Linked DNA regions of Homo sapiens. The protein of the gene in region 1 purifies or fractionates together with the protein of each later gene. This does not show direct contact. Each region holds a gene or a part of one and is shown on either strand. Other genes may lie near its edges.

Region 1 (5,436 bases):
GGGCCAGGGTGCATCAGGGCTGCTGTGTGGAGGATCCCCCGCGGGAGCAGAGGGAAGGTGGGAGACCAGGGAGGGGCCGCTGGGGTGCCCAGGAGAGCCAGGGTGGAGGAAGAACATTGTTGCTGCAGCACTGCCTCCAGGCTGGAGAGGGAGCCAGGAAGAAAGTGAGGTAGCCTTGCGGGGGCTGGGGCTGGAATCCACCCCCTCCCATTAAGCAGGGTAGGGGGTGTGGATGCAGGGGAGGGGCTCAAAGCCCAGGACGGAGGGAAAGGCTGCTAGGCTTCAGGAGACCAGCCTGCCCGGAGACAGTTATGGACGCCCAAGGCAGCAATGGCAAAAGCAGGAATAAACGGTCACCTCCCTTCCCACAGCCCCTTTTTCTCAAGGCTGGACAGGCCTGCTCTGCCTAGAGAACAATTCATTTTGGCCCCAAGCCCTCAGGAGGCAGGAGGAAGGCAGGTGGCAGATCCCCTGGAAGGGGCCAGGCTGGGTGGCCAGAGGGACAATGGCCCAGAGCACAGGGCTCAGACCCCCTACAGCCAAGGTGGGCTCCAGTTGCAGAACAATCATTCCCAAAACAGTCACTGCCATCAGGGCAGCCTGCTGCTGCCACTGCCACTACCCACAGCCACACAGAGCCTTGGGCCAGCCCTGAACTTGGTGTCAGAGGCAGCCTGGGGTCTAGACACAGAGCAGGGACCTAGCTCTCTCTCAAGTGAGGGCTAAGGGCAGCAGGGCACGTGTGATCAGGATGGCCCCACCTCCTGGAGAGGTTAAGATTCCTCAGATGCAAAATGGGGGTGCCAATCTCCCTGAATGCCCCCAAACACTGGGAACACTGTAAGCACCAAACTCAATTCTCATATGGTCACCACTTCAACCTGTGACTAGGAGCCAGTCATTCAGCCTCAGTTTCCCCATCTGGTACCCTAGTCCCCCAAGTCTCAAATTCATAGCGCCTTGTTTCAGCACAGGGATGCATCTGTCTGGAACCCAGGCAAGGACTCTGGGGCACCCCATCTCTACCCCACCCATTGGTGCTCACTCCAGTTCAGCCACAGGGACTCCATGAAACCTTGTCACAGCCCCAAGAGACAGCCGGGCCTCTGTGACTCGCTCCCAGCGGAGGACACCATGGACCCAGAGCAGGGAGGCGAGTGGCTGGTGCAACTCGGTTAGCAGGTGGCAGAGTGAGGATGGGACTCATAGGAGATCCTGTCCAAGTAGCGGTGCAGGGGCCAGAGCTTTCTGGGCAGCCTCCAACCAGCTCAAGCCTTTTGCACACGGGCTGAAGGAGTCTGGGGTGTAGGACGTGGATCCCTGGACAGCAACCAGTCCCAAAGGAGGTGCTCACATGCACAAAGACAGGATAGAACCCCTTTAGACGGGACCCTTCAGACAGGACCAGGAGGAGAGAATGTCACACTCCAACGTTTGAGTCATGTCTGTACCACATATACTTTTAAGGTGGGGAGACAAAAACTGAACACGGATTTAAAATAAAGGTAAAAGACAAAGTTAGTTTTAAAACACCTTTACTGGCTGGGTGCGGTGGCTCATGCCTGTAATCCCAGCACTCTGGGAGGCTGAGGCAGGTGAATCACCTGAGGTCAGGAGTTCGAGACCAGCCTGGCCAGCACAGCGAAACTCTGTCTCTACTAAAAATACAAAAATTAGCCGGGCATGGTGGTGCATGCCTGTAATCCCAGCTACTTGGGAGGCTGCAGCATGAGAAATGTTTGAACCCAGGAGGCGGAGGTTGCAGTGAGCCGAGATCGTGCCACTGCACTTCAGCCTGGGTGACAGAGCGAGACTCCATCTCAAAAAAAAAAAAAAAAAAAAAAAGGCTGGGCGCGGTGGCTGACACCTGTAATCCCAGCACTTTGGGAGGCTGAGGCGGGTGGATCAGGAGGGCAGGAGATTGAGACCATCCTGGGTAACATGGTGAAACCCCGTCTCCACTAAAAACACACAAAAAAATTAGCCGGGCGTGGTGGCGGGTGCCTGTAGTCCCAGCTACTCAGGAGGCTGAGGCAGGAGAATGGCGTGAACCCCAAGAGGTGGAGTTTGCAATGAGACAATTGCACCACTGTACTCCAGCCTGGGCGGTAGAGCAAGAATCCGTCTCAAAAAAAAAAAAAAAAGCCGAGTGTGGTGGCTCATGCCTGTAATCCCAACACGTTGCACTTTGGGAGGCCGAGGCAGGCGGATCACCTGAAGTCGGGAGTTCAAGACCAGGCTGGCCAACATGGTAAAACCCCATCTCTACAAAAATACAAAAATCAGCCAGGTATGATGGTGGGTGCCTGTAATCCCAGCTACTTGGGAAGCTGAGGCAGAAGAATCGCTTGAACCCAGAGGCAGAGGTTGCAGTGAGCTGAGATCACACCACTGCACTCCAGCCTGGGCAATACAGCAAGACTCCATCACAAAAAAAGAAAGAAAGAAAGAAAAAAAACACCCTCATAGTCTCTTTCACTGGAGCACAGAGAAGGCAAGAAGTTTGGCCTTCACCTCCTGGCAGAGCTCCAAGGGAAGGCCTCTTCCCCCAGACTATCTGGCCAGGTCCCCTTGGCCCAGGCCAGGCCACCATTTTGTGAAGCCACACCACAGAGGTAGTCAGGTCTGAAGCCCGTTGCAAGATGGGGAAAGCAAGGTAGTCGGGATGGGAAAACGTGTTCAAAGTCGCATGCGGCTCCTGGGCGCAGCTTTATCCCCTTTTCCTCCCCTCCCTCCTTCAACTGCTGGAGGAAGAGCCCAGGAGCTCAGGCTTCGGTTTTGGCCGCCAGCCTTTGTCTGCCCCTGCCTGCCCTGTGCCCCGTTCTGATGTGAATATCACCCGAGGCCCTTCCCTCAAAGAGGAGGACCAGGGACATCACGAAGCACACACCCCAAGGACCCCGATCCAGCAGCTCCCCTTCTACTTGTGAGCGTCCCGAGGGCTGGGGCCATCTCCAGACCCCCTTCCTTAGAAAGGCAGTGGGACCAGGACCTCGTCATCACGCCTGTGCAATCCCGGCTCTACATTTTCCCGTCTGTGTGCCCTCGGGCAAGTCGCACCCTCCCTGTTTTCCCTTCTGCAAGGCCCTAGAGGCAACAGTGGGCAGCAGTGCATGGTGACCACAGCCCAGGCCCCTCCCTCTGGCAACGGACTTGTGACTTGCAGCCAAATCAGCTCTGCCGCCTGCCTCCCCTCCAGCCAGCACAGACTCCAACAGGGGCCCAGCTTTGGGAGAGGCTCTTTCAAACACCCCTCAGCCTCTGGCCAGGGCCTGGGGCCCCAAGGGCTCCTCGGGGAGCTATGTGTAGGCAACTTTATTCGGCCCCTGGGCCTGGGCAGTTCATGGAGATTCCTGAGCCTCAGGAAGGGGAAGGCGGGCTGGGGTTTTGCCCCCAGGGGGCACAGCGGGAGGGAACCCTGGGGACCTGTACCTGCTACTTGGGGCTGAGCTCAGCCGCTTGGCTCTCTTCTCCAGCCAGTCCTCCAGATGGCCCTCGGGGAGCTCAGGAGCATCTAGTAGCCACTCCCTGGCTCGCCTCTCCTCTGTGGGGACAGGGAGACAAAGGCAAGTGAGGGGTACACTCCTGCCTGCCAGAACCCTACCCTCTCACAAAGCAGAAGCAACTGGTAGGCCCTGAGCAAGCCTGGGAAGTTGCAGCAACCTTCCAGGAGGATGCACCTGGACTGCTTCTCCAGGCCATCTGTGCACGAGGGCCCAGCACTCGGCCTCGCTCTGTTTTCCCATCAAATAGAGACAACCCCGGCTGCCTCCAAGCTCTTGGGGAGCTGGAAACAGGACAGTGCTTGTAGAGAACCTGGCCCTGGCCAGGCGTGGTGGCTCACGTCTGTAATCCCAGCACTTTGGGATGCCAAGGCGGGCGGATCACCTGAGTCCAGGAGTTTGAAACCAGCCTGGCCAACATGGAGAAACCCTGCCTCTACTAAAAATAAAAATAAAAAAAATTAGCCATGTGTGGTGGTGGGTGCCTGTAATCCCAGCTACTTGGGAGACTGAGGCAGGAGAATCGCTTGAACCTAGGAGGTGGAGGCTGCAGTGAGCTAAGATCGCACCACTGCACTCCAACCTGGGCGGCAAGAGTGAAACTCCATCTCAAAAAAAAAAAAAGAGAGAGAGAGCCTGGCCCTAAGGAGGGGTCTGAATCTGAGGTGCAGGGAGGCAGTGAGGGCAGTCGAATGGGGTCACATCTCAGCTCTGTCACCTGCCGGGTCTTTGACCCTGGGCAGGGTAATGAGCCTCAGCTTCCCTGGTTTTTATTCTCATAAGCTGTCCAACAAAACCTGTTGCTCAACGAATTAAAACCAATCAACGAATGGAATTTATACAAGCTGGGTGTGAGCGTTTGATGGGGTCAGAGTCGCCAAGTCATCTGGGATGGAGTCTTGGGCCAGAGGAAAGTAATCATACACTTGACTAGCACTCACTCAGAGCCAGGCCCCAGTCTCTGGAGCTCACTCGGGGCCAGGCCTCGGTCTCTGGAGCTCACTCGGGGCCGGGCCCTGGTCTCTGGAGCTCACTTGGGGCCGGGCCCTGGGCTGTACAGGTGTCATCTTGCTTCATCCTTAGAGACATCACATTCGACAGGACACAGCCTCCAAGAGGTTAAGCCACGTACCAAGGTTACAGAGGACGTGGCAGAGCTGGGACTGTCAGAGCTGCCAGCTGGGACTCTGTTCCCAGCCTCCCTGGGCCTCTCCCCATTCCTGTCCCCGCTCGGCATCGTCTCCAGTTCCAGGCCCACTGCCCCGTGCTCGTCCCACCATGGGCCAGCCGTCCTCTGAGAGCCCATAGCCAGGGAAGAGCTGCAGCTGCCGCTGCTGCCAGGACTTGCTGGCCAGTCCCACAAGGCCTTGCTTCCACCCTGGGGAAAAATGCTCCTGGAAACCCTGTGTTGGTCCCGGGGCTGCAGCCACAGCACCACTGGCTCCCAGGGCAGGGCACGGAGCCTGCAGTGTCTAACTGGTCAGAGGGGAGTGAGGCCCGTAGGGGGATCAGGGCAAAGGCCAAGCTGCCCCAGACCTTCACTGGCTACCCTGAGGCCTCCTGGACAGAGAAGCTTAAGGGGGCAGGCACTGAGAGACCTGGAGTCTGCCCCCAACCTGCTGGGGGGCTCACGCGAGGCCTTTCAGTCTGAATGTTGGCCTTAGTTTCCCCACCTGTTCAGTGAGAGGCTGTGGAAGAAGATTGATAAACACCATCTCAGTCAGAACTTCCTTGTTCTCTAACTAGAGGAGTGAATTTCCCAAAGGCGAGATGTCAGTTTCCATGGAAGCTGAACTTGCCCCTCCCTGGAATCACCAGGCTGTGAGACTCCAGAGGGCAGGGAAGGTGCGTTCCTAAACTCCTTATCCCTAGACTGTCGTAAGGGGTCTGCTTGGTGCCAAGTGGGGACTGGGTATGCTGCCTGATTGAGGAA
Region 2 (3,341 bases), on another chromosome or scaffold:
GGCCGCCTTGTAGGCCCCCTCGGATCCCACCAGCTCCTGGGCAGAGCACCAAAGCACCGACGGTGGCAGGCTGAACACCTTCCGGGATGAGGGAGACGCCAGTGAGGCCCGGGACACGGGCAGGTGCCCCCCACAGACAGCCCCACCTTCCGGGATGCGGGAGACGGCAGTGAGGCTGGGGCACGGGCAGGTGCCTCCCACCCCCCACCGACAGCCCCGCCTTCTGGGATGAGGGAGAGGCCAGTGAGGCTGGGACACGGGCAGGTGCCCCCCAGGGGTCACCTCCGGGACCCCTTTCCAGGGACAGCCCTCCCACCTCCTCTAAGGCCACCACATGCCATGGGAACCCAGTTGCTTGCAGAATGGGCTTCACTTCGGCCAGGGTCTTTGATCTCTCCTCTAGGCTCTGGCCACAGGCTGCTCCCTCTGAAAAACCCAGGCAGAAAGAGTCAGGGCTCAGAGAGGAGCCAGGCAGGGCAGGCTGCAGGGCCACCTCCACCTGGGAAAACCCTTCGAGGCCTCGCTCCGCAGGGCGGTGCTTCCTGGCGGAGCTGTGGGGTGTCGGCCATTTTCCTTTGGGCAGGGGTTTCTCTCTTGCGGCTGACCTCAGCGCTACAGTCAACACCCCAGGAGTTCGTTCTGCAGGAGCAAGGGTCGGGGAGTCGGCCCCTGGGCCCCCGCTCACCATCAGCACTTAACTTGCCCTTCTTTGTCCCCAGACCCCGTGATGGGGGCTGGGCAGCCGCCACTCCTGCTCCCACCCCCGACTTTCTAAGGATGTTCTTAGATTCCAGGAACAGTGATGCCACCTAACGATGGATACATCTGCTGCCTCCTTCAGGGAGATGTCCCCACCAGGCCCTCAGTGCAGGGGCAGCACCAGTAGCTCAACACATCCTACCAGAGGGAGGACCGGCACCAGAGGGAGGGTCCACACCAGAGGGAGGATCCGCAGGGCTTACCCCAAGTGGCCAGGGACTAGGAGGAGCAATGGCCCCACATACCGTCAACAAAGATGACTCCTGCCACAAAGCGCAGTCTTTTGGCAGAATCTTGGCTCAGGCCCTAGAGGGAGAAGCAGCAGGGACTCAGCCCCCAGCCATAAGCCACAGGACACTTTTCCAGCTCAGAACATTCTTCATCTGGATTTAATGCCATCTTGGAAGGTGAAGTGGTCTTCCCCTGCCATTGCGTTTATTGGACAAAGCCATTCAGACTCAGGTGCCGGGCAGGCCCAGTAGGCGAGGCCGCACGCCCGACTTATTTTAAAGGGTAGCCTGGGGGTCTTCATCCCCCTGGTAAAACATGCCCCTCACCAGCTGGTCCTGGATGTCCCAACAACGCCCCAGGAGAGGGGGCTGGGTTACGGGGCCACTGTGCCACCATCCCACACGCTTCTGACCACTAAGGAAGCACTTGCTCTCACAAGCAGAAACCAACAGCCTGCAAGAGGCAGGGGCGCCGCTGGGCACAGGAAGGGCAGCACCAGCGTTACACAGAGGGCTGGGCCAGTTCCCTCACAACACCCTCCTGGCAGGTTCAGGGGACCTCAGAAAACAGAAAACTAATTTCAGCAGTGTTGTGCCATGCGCCCATCCTGAGACCAACACCCCACTCCTCAACCCGGCAAAGCCGACCCCTCTCCTCTCAACCACCCAGCCCACAGAAACAGCCTCCTCCGGTCTGCACCTCTCATGAGAGTGCAGAGAAACCAAGCACATCCCGCTCCTGTGCCCTCCTGAGAAGCCCGACCTGCCTCAGACTTCCTGAGCTGACCCTTGACAGGCCACGGGCACAGCCCCACCACCCCCAGCCGAGCCCTGTGTGCAGCCTAAGCCCGCCTCCACCTCCCTGCGCGGGCCGCCGCCTCCACCTCAAACGCTGCTCCCTTTGCTTCTCCTGGCAAACCCCCGCCCCTTTCCCAATCTTCCCTCGGGTCACACATGGCTGAGCCAAGATGCAGCTTTCCACTGACTGTGTTTCTACGCAGGTTGAGCAAATGGACAGAAGTCAAGTGGGCCGCACACACGCACTCTGGACCCAGCTTCTGATTGGTGCACCTGCTGTAAACACATCTGAGAGTGGGCCGCACACACGCACTGTGGACCCAGCTTCTGATTTGTGCACCTGCTGTAAACACATCTGAGAGTGGGCCGCACACACGCGCTGTGGACCCAGCTTCTGATTTGTGCACCTGCTGTAAACACATCTGAGAGTGGGCCGCACACACACACTGTGGACTCAGCTCCTGATTGGTGCACCTGTTGTGAACACATCTGAGAACCCCCCAAGTGTCCAGGCCGCAGGGTGGACTGCTCTCTAGCCCCAACCAAGAGCCCCTCAGCAGGCTGAGAAGGGAGGCCCCCAGCCTGAAGCTCAGCCCAGCAGCCCGGGCCCACGGGGTGGTGAACACGCACCTCAAGAACCTGCCAGACCATGGAGCTGGACGAAGGCCCCCCAGACCACGCCAAGAGCACCTGGGGGAGAAAAAACATCACTCAGGGCACCGCACCTCCAACACAGGCAGACACCCCACCTCGTGGACATCTAGGACATCGAGTCTGTCCTCAAAGGCCAAGGAGGAGCTGGCGGGCTGCAGCAGGCCAGGCTGCCTGTGGGAGGGACAAGCAGGGACCTCGAGGGGCCAGGCTGCTCAGTCAGACCCCCAGGACCCAGACGCTACCTTCTCGCCTGGAAAGATGAGCCGGTTCTTGCCCAGCATGGCTCTGAACTTGTGGACGTAGAAGGCCTTGAAACAGTCCCTGCAACACAGACCTGAGATGAGGGAACCGCCTGCTACCCGCACAGTGAGCAGCGTCCTGAGGCGCTGCCAGGTGACGACGTCCTTTGCCAATCTCCATCTTTAAAAGCAGCATCTTCACATCCAGGCTCTGTCCAGAGACTGGTGAAAGGGGCGGGGTTGGCCCCTCTGGCAGTGGCTTCCTCAGGGTGAACACGAGGCTCACCGGCCCCTCCCACGACCAGGTACAAACTGCACAGCCACGGAGGCTGCATCCAGCAAACGAGGGCAGAGCCCCGGCACCCCTCCCCACAGGCGCTCAGAAGGGCCCAGCTGGTGGAGTGGACAGACTTAGGCACGTACAGGGCAAGGCCAACCCAGACCCCATAAAAAAAGACCCACCACATACAGACACCACCTCTTGGAGGTGAAACGTGGAAATGGAGCGGGCCACAGCGAGGACCCACCATGCAGAGACACCACCTCTTTGGGGTGAAGTGCGGAAATGGGGTGGGCCACAGCGAGGGCTCAGTATCCTGGGGCCCCAGAGCTGGCATCTTTAGTGTGCTGGGCTCAACTGGGCCAGGAATGGCTAAGAGGC

The links. Proteins that work in one complex are often made in the same cells at the same time.
Region 2: the proteins of ZMAT5 (region 1) and CTU2 purify together in Homo sapiens (affinity purification with mass spectrometry; 2 studies listed by BioGRID and IntAct, with this or other methods). This does not show direct contact.

What each region holds. Positions count from the first base shown.
Region 1 is NC_000022.11:29,734,898-29,740,333, forward strand, and holds part of ZMAT5 (zinc finger matrin-type protein 5), read right to left. Parts: intron 3,545-5,436; coding exon 3,433-3,544; intron 1-3,432.
Region 2 is NC_000016.10:88,709,359-88,712,699, reverse strand, and holds part of CTU2 (cytoplasmic tRNA 2-thiolation protein 2), read right to left. Parts: intron 2,763-3,341; coding exon 2,684-2,762; intron 2,478-2,683; coding exon 2,418-2,477; intron 1,066-2,417; coding exon 1,005-1,065; intron 640-1,004; coding exon of another isoform or gene 427-639; coding exon 317-426; intron 79-316; coding exon 1-78. UniProt on the Homo sapiens protein: Plays a central role in 2-thiolation of mcm(5)S(2)U at tRNA wobble positions of tRNA(Lys), tRNA(Glu) and tRNA(Gln). May act by forming a heterodimer with CTU1/ATPBD3 that ligates sulfur from thiocarboxylated URM1 onto the uridine of tRNAs at wobble position.